Linked DNA regions of Homo sapiens. The protein of the gene in region 2 interacts with the protein of the main gene of each other region in a biochemical or structural test. Each region holds a gene or a part of one and is shown on either strand. Other genes may lie near its edges.

Region 1 (3,823 bases), on a different chromosome or scaffold from region 2:
AAAGTAGTGATTTATAAGTATTATCACCTTTTCCCAATACTGAAATTGTTTCCAGTACTGAAATACTTTTATTGTTCTCTGGATACTTTTTGCTGCTAATTAACATCTCTTTTTACAGGATTCATGAATAAAATTTTCCATCCCAACATTGATGAAGCGTAAGTAACTATTTTAAAATGTTTCAATTTTAGCAGCAACTGCTCATGATTAGTGTTTCTCTGTGTTATAAAAAGCCTCGGTTATCTTTTTGGACCTTATCAGGAGGTAGGACTGTATGAATGGTCATGTAAATGATAGAATCCAAAGGATATGAGGTTCTCAATCACTTAGTTCACATTCTGCTGTTGTACCACTTATTTTTTTCCATTGTCGTGACTGGGTCCTTCATTTTTCTTGTTACCCAGCAAACAGTAGTAATATTCCACATCTCACTTCTCTTTTTGTAGACACAGTTCAGAGATCTGTTTTCAGCCTACAGATAGACTATTTTCAGATCTTATAATATTTTCTCAATTCTTGATAGATAGTAAGGCAAAATGACTATAGTTTCATTTCAGTTAATGAATCTTATTTATCCCCTTCTTTCCTTCTAATATTTTATTAATGATACTTTAAAATATTCCAGCATATCCTGTTTTATACTTCTAGTGCTGTTTAGAATATATTATTGTTTGGGATGCAATTTTAATTTGTCATGGCACTAAGTTTTACTGTCTCTCACAAACATACCTAACAGGTTTTTCTGCACTCTGTGTGAGTAGGTTGTATATATACATACATCATGCCCCTTAGTCCTTTAATATTAATATTTTATTGTATCAGTTATCCTAACAAGGATATTCTCTTATCTATCCACAGTATATAGTTGTCAGATTCAGGAATTTAACGTTAATGCAATACTTATTTAATCTACTGCCATATTCCAGTAACTTACTTTTTAGCACTTTTTTCTTTCAATAAAGGATCCAGTCTAGAATCACACATTACATTTAGTTGTCATGTTTCTTTAAACTGCTTTAATCAGGATTAGTTCCTCAGCCTGCCTTTATCTTTTATAAAATTCACTTTTTAAAATAACATAGACCAGTTATTTTATAGATTGTTCCTCAATTTGTGTTTGTCTGATGTTTCCTGATCATTAGATTCAGGGCATGAACACACTTAAGGCCAGAAAACTACAAAGTAAGATGGTGTCCTTCTTGGGGTATCACATTCAGAGACACACAAGGTCTGTCTGCCCCTTGTGTTCTCAGCACCTGGTTCAGGTGTTGTCTGGTTTCTCCATTGCATAGTTACTATTTTCCCCTTTCAGTCTGTAAGGTGACACTTCAAGACCTGGTACTATTCTGTTCCTCATCATACTTTTCCCCAATTGGGATTCTTTTTTTCACAGATCTATTAGAAGTATTTCTCTTGATAAGTAAAAATTAGTTGCCAGATACATGCAACTAACTTTCTAATTTTTAAAAACATGCCATTCTTTCCATCTGTTTCAGGTCAGGAACTGTGTGTCTAGATGTAATTAATCAAACTTGGACAGCTCTCTATGGTGAGTTTGGCCATGGAATATTTTTTGGAGATGTTGAGACATTGCCTAAAAAAATGTTGTTTGGCTTTTCTTTTCTGGTTTAAGATGTTTTGTTGGTAATGGGAAGGGATTTTTGAGGGACCGACTGGGAAAGTTTGATCAGTGGAAAAAATGTTTTCTCTTAAGTACAAATATATCAGTTTAGCTGTGGAAGTTTAAAATGATTTTTTGAGATTCCAAACTTAAGGTATAGTGATACATGTGCACACACATGAGTACATGCGCACACACATGAATACATGTGCAAACATTTTATATGTATGTATTAGCACATAATATATACATATTTTGGTTTTGGAAAAAACTAAAACTACTTAGGAATGTCCCTCTGAAATGAGAGAGCAATGATATAGTAAGAGGTTTTAGGGGATCATCTTTTCAAAGACCAAAACCTCCTTATGAAGGAAGAGTAATTTAGCCTTACCTTCAGTGCTGAAATTGACACCCCATCTCTTACAGGGAATCAACAAATGAATTGCCCAGCTCTGCAAAATGCTATGCTGAATATCCCAGAGAGTTATAAAGAGCATCAGGCCTTTCCTCCTTATCACCTGGTTGGGGAGCTGAAAATATGTTAAAATACAGTCATCTCTTGGTATCTGCAGGGGATCAGTTCCCAGACCACCTGCAGATACCAAAATTCATGCTTACTCAAGTCCCACAGTCATCCCTGTGAAACCCACTGACATGGAGGGCTAGCTGTATTTATTGAAAACCACATGTGAATGGACCCATGCAGTTCAAACTGTGTGTGGACCCATGTTGTTCAAGGGTCAGTTGTGTATTTGAAGTTAATTAGGGATACAACAAATAAATCTGTTTTTCCCTCCACATGTCCAAATCTCAGGCTTCATAGAGTCTACCTACTCCAGTGCTCCTACCCCGTATACTTCCGCTGATTCTCCAGCTGGAAGTAATCTCTGGATACCATTACATTTTATAGCTCCTTTTTTATGGTCCACTTTTACTTTCTACTGTGTATTTGTTGTTTATGCCTATTTTTTTGTGCTACTAGATTATTTCCTATCTTAAGGGCTATCGGGTGTGTGTCTGATTCATCTGTAAGGCCCAGGACTCTTATCACAGTGCCCTTCACCAGTATGGGTTGAAAGAATGAATGGTACAGGTAACCATTGCTGAGAGGCACAAGAAAAGAAGGGAAAGCTCAGTTGAGGCTGAGCTTAACCAGGGATGGCTGCTTCTTGTTGAACTTGTACGACCTTTTAGTGGTCTGAGGTAGGTAAGACTTCTTAGTCCAGCCACAATCTGCAAGTTACTTTTGCCAGATATCCTTGAACTAGATTGGTAAATGAGAATCACAGAGAAAGGTTGGTCACCAGCAGAACACAGTTAATCCCTGCCTCCACCTGATTGTGCCGTTCAAAAATTATTTTCTCTACCTGGGATATTCCCCCCTGATCTTTGTGTGGTTAGCACCTTCTTCACTCATCTCACATATTACTTCCTCAGAGCAGTTTCCTTTCCCAGCTACTCCATCTGAAATCACACCCCTCCATAGCACAGCACCCAGTTGTATATATATTTTTTAATTTTAAAATTATTTTTTAATACATAGAAACAGAGTTGCACTCTGTTGCCCAGGCTGGAATGCAGTGGTGCGATAATAGCTCACTGCAGCCTTGAGCTCCTAGGCTCGAACAGTCCTCCCATCTCAGCCTCCCCAGTAGCTGGGACTATAGGTGCATACTACCATGCCTGGCTAGTACCCCGTTTTCAATAAGCTTCTAAAACTGGTATTTGTATATTATTTATCTTATCCCCTTGGATTGTAAGCACCATGAGTGAGGACTTTGTCTTGTTCTCGTCTCTCTCTCTCTATACACACGCACACGCACACGTGACTGTAACAGTGCCTGGTGCACAATAAGGGTTCGACTATTTGTTGTCTTAATGAGTGAATTAATCATGTCCAGAACTGTTTAACAAGAGAGTTTTAGGGGAGATGATGGCATATAGTTGAGGCAACAAGAAAGAACATACACTCCGAGCTTGATTAAATGGATTCCTTTTAAGATGGTTTTTTTGGTAAAAATGTCTCATGGCAGGCTGCCTGGAATATCTGATGTAATGATGTGTTTTCTTAAACTACATTCACATCTTAAAAATGTACATATCAAAATACTGCAATCTGGTTCCAATTACAATGAAGTAAATTGATGTTTAGTTTTGCTAAAGCTTTTACCATTGACCAGAAAAGCTTTGTGAAAGATGTTT
Region 2 (3,197 bases):
AAAGAACAGGACGCAAGACAAGGAAAGCCCCTGCACGTGAGGACGGTGGAGGCCGGGGCGGCTGCGTGGCAGTGGGGCCACAGGGTCTGCTTCGGCCGAGGGGACCTGGGGACGGGCGCTCCAAAGAAGAGCACGTGGGAATGTGGTGGGTTCCAGCTGGGTGCTGTGGAGGGGCCAGGGCAGCCACCATGGGGTAAGAGATGGGCTAAGGGGCACCAGGCTGGCCACAGGAGCTGCGACGGGGCACTGGAGAGAACAGGGGTGGGCGGTGGGGGGAAGGGCCAGTGGCCACAGCCCGCAGGCCTCCTTAGCCCAACCCTAGACTCAGCCCAAGCCGCAGGCCCAGGCTTGCTGGTGGCTGCAGCCTGAGCCCCCACCCCCAACAGACAATGGCCCGTGGGTCCCAGGAACCAGTGTCTGATTCACCCAGCTGCAAGCCGGGGCCTCAAGACGCTGGGGCCATCACGCCTCAGGGCAGCGCCCGAGAGGAGGACTGCGGTCCGGGCAGGAGTGGCCTCCAGCCGGCTTCTCAACTCCCGGTGGCCGTGGTGCCAGAAGCTACGCATATGCCCGCCATGCTGCCCGGGCCCCGGGGAGGAGCAGAACACAACCTCGGTGTTAGAAACGCACGGCAGCCTCGGCTCACACGGAAATGAGAAATAGAAAACCATTTTATTCGCATGGTTTACATTTACAGTTTATTAGCTAGTCAACATCAACATGCAAAAATAAGCACTAACTACAAACCTCTACGATACGGTTCTCTGTCAGCTACGGTGGTTCATTTGTTTTGAAAAGTCATCAGTACTTCTTTCAACTGAACGATTAATTTCTGTAATGGATAGCAATTAGACTCTACAGTTATGGAACCATCCGGCAAGGCCTCTGCAGAAATTTGGTCCCGTGGATTTCCACGTTATACATTCTCGAAGCAGGAAGTAAGGCGGCACACAGAGGGTGTGATATCGAAACGACGCAGCTACGAACACAGCCCCGCGATGTGATATCGAAACTATGCACGTACGAACACAGTCCCGCGGACACGACCCGCGAGGCAGGCGGGCGTCCTCGAAGCCAGCCCCCGACGGTGGCGGCGCCAGGCGTTTTGGCAGCAGCTCTCGAATGAAGCCATAAGTGTCCCTCGTGGCGCGGCATCGCGGGTCACTGCAGGTCAGTCCGGTGCCGCTGCCACCTTCCCCGGCCAGGCCAGGGCCAACAGGAAGTGGTGAAGGACCAGCCCGTTCTCCAAGTCTCATCGTTCACAGAAGGAAAGAAACTGAAAACACAGGGAAATCACGGACTCCTATATTTTAAACGTTCTTAAGTTTCCCTCGGTGTTTAGGTCAGTCTTTAAAGAAGAGTTTCCTTCGCAAGTTGAAAGTACTTTTCAGAAGCATCAAATGGTTGACGTGTTACAAAATCCTACCAATCCAAATGTTTTCAAGTACAAACTTATGAAACCTTATTTTCTCTCTTCCTAAGAGTATTTATCGTTGCTCACGGATCTTTGGTCGCAAGAAACAGAAACGCCGCGGCAGGCTGGAGCGTGGGACAGGAGGAAGGCGTGGCCTCCCCGCCCACTGCAGCCCGTCCCCGAGGCGTGCGCTTCACGACGTGGGGCCTACATGATGTACACCTTCTCGGCTTGTGAGAAGTGGAAGACTTCTTTGGTTCTCGGGCACACGACTTTATCATCTTGACGGATAGAAAGCAGAGACTGAAAAATAAAACCGGGAATGCATTAAGGCAAGCGACTACAACGTACACACGGATTTCCATGGAAAATCCCCACAATGAACCACCAGGGAATGACTCATCCTCTCAGGCAAAGTTCCTTCCCGAAGGCACACCTGCCAAAGAAATCCCGGGGCCACCTCGCCTGTCCTTCCCACCCCTTCATCCATTTCGAACGAAGCTAAGGCAGGGTGGGGCGAGAGGACAGCCCTGTCCCAATGGCGACGTGTGCCAGCCTGGCCCCGCTGCCCTGCCCGCCCCACACAGCCCTGTCCCGATGGCGACGCGTGCCAGCCTGGCCCCCCGCCCTGCCCGTCCCACACAGCCCTGTCCCGATGGCGATGCGTGCCAGCCTGGCCCCCCTGCCCTGCCCGTCCCACACAGCCCTGTCCCGATGGCGATGCGTGCCAGCCTGGCCCCCCTGCCCTGCCCCCCTCACATTGTAGCCGTAGACGTAGCCGTTGGGCAGCATCATGGGCGGATTGTTCTCGTTCATCACGTCGCCAGAAATCTTGCAGACCAGGCGGGAGTTGGCACAGTGGGCCATGGGCAGGGGCTGCGCCAGCTTGTTCAGGGAGCGGCTGCACACAGGGCAGTCAGGGCTCTTGGAGCTGCCGTCCTCCTTGTAGCACTGTCTGAGCATCGGGTCAAGGAAGGGTTGGGGGCCACTCAGGGCAGCCGGGGTGAGCCCAGCCCCCTGTGGCCACTCTGCCCTGGGCTGCGTGCCCTTCTGGCTATGTGGGCGCCATGCTGACTACACGGGGCTGTCTTTCGAGGCACAGGAAGTGCTGCACTCGACAGCTAAACAGCCCCACTGAGGCCTCGGTGGAGACAAGAAGCCTGCGCCTTCTCACCCCGGCCTCCAGCACCAGGACCACAGGCACAGAGTGGCTCCGTCGCCCGCCGCCCTCTCCCCGGCCACGCAACCTCTCCAGGCAGGACAAGAGCCACCCAGCAGGGACGTTCTGCTGGCACCTAGGAACAGGCAGTGGGCAAGCACGCCAGCCCTCTCGCCCAGAGTTCCACAAAGAGGGGACAAGGGAGGGGGCCTGAGTCTCATTCATACCCCGGCACAGCCAGGTACCAGCAGCAATCGCGAAACACTCACTGCCCTCTGGGCCTGAGGCAGGTCACATGAAAGACATTCATAGGCGGGGACAGAGTCAGTTGCAGGAGGACAGTCAGTCACAGGTGGGGACAGAGTCAGTCACAGGTGGGGACAGAGTCAGTCACAGGAGAGGGCAGAGTCAGTCACAGGCAGGGGTAGAGTCAGTAAGAGGCTGAGTCACAGGCAGGACGGAGTCAGTCACAGGTGAGACAGTCACAGGGCAGGGGCAGAGTCAGTCACAGGCGAGGACAGAGTCACAGGCGGGATGGACTCAGTTGCAGGAAGGGACAGACTCAGTCGCAGGCAGGGGCAGAGTCTGTCACAGGCAGGAAGAAGTCAGTTGCAGGTGGGACAG

What was found.
Region 1: of the proteins of MAEA (region 2) and UBE2H, one has a biochemical effect on the other in vitro, tested with the Homo sapiens proteins (one study listed by BioGRID).

The regions. Positions count from the first base shown.
Region 1 is NC_000007.14:129,855,237-129,859,059, reverse strand, and holds part of UBE2H (ubiquitin-conjugating enzyme E2 H), read left to right. Parts: intron 1-118; coding exon 119-158; intron 159-1,496; coding exon 1,497-1,549; intron 1,550-3,823. UniProt on the Homo sapiens protein: Accepts ubiquitin from the E1 complex and catalyzes its covalent attachment to other proteins. E2 ubiquitin conjugating enzyme that transfers ubiquitin to MAEA, a core component of the CTLH E3 ubiquitin-protein ligase complex.
Region 2 is NC_000004.12:1,337,594-1,340,790, reverse strand, and holds the end of MAEA (E3 ubiquitin-protein transferase MAEA), read right to left. Parts: intron 2,370-3,197; coding exon 2,174-2,369; coding exon of another isoform or gene 1,916-2,173; exon of another isoform or gene 1,724-1,915; intron 1,718-1,723; coding exon 1,622-1,717; 3' UTR 654-1,621; downstream 1-653.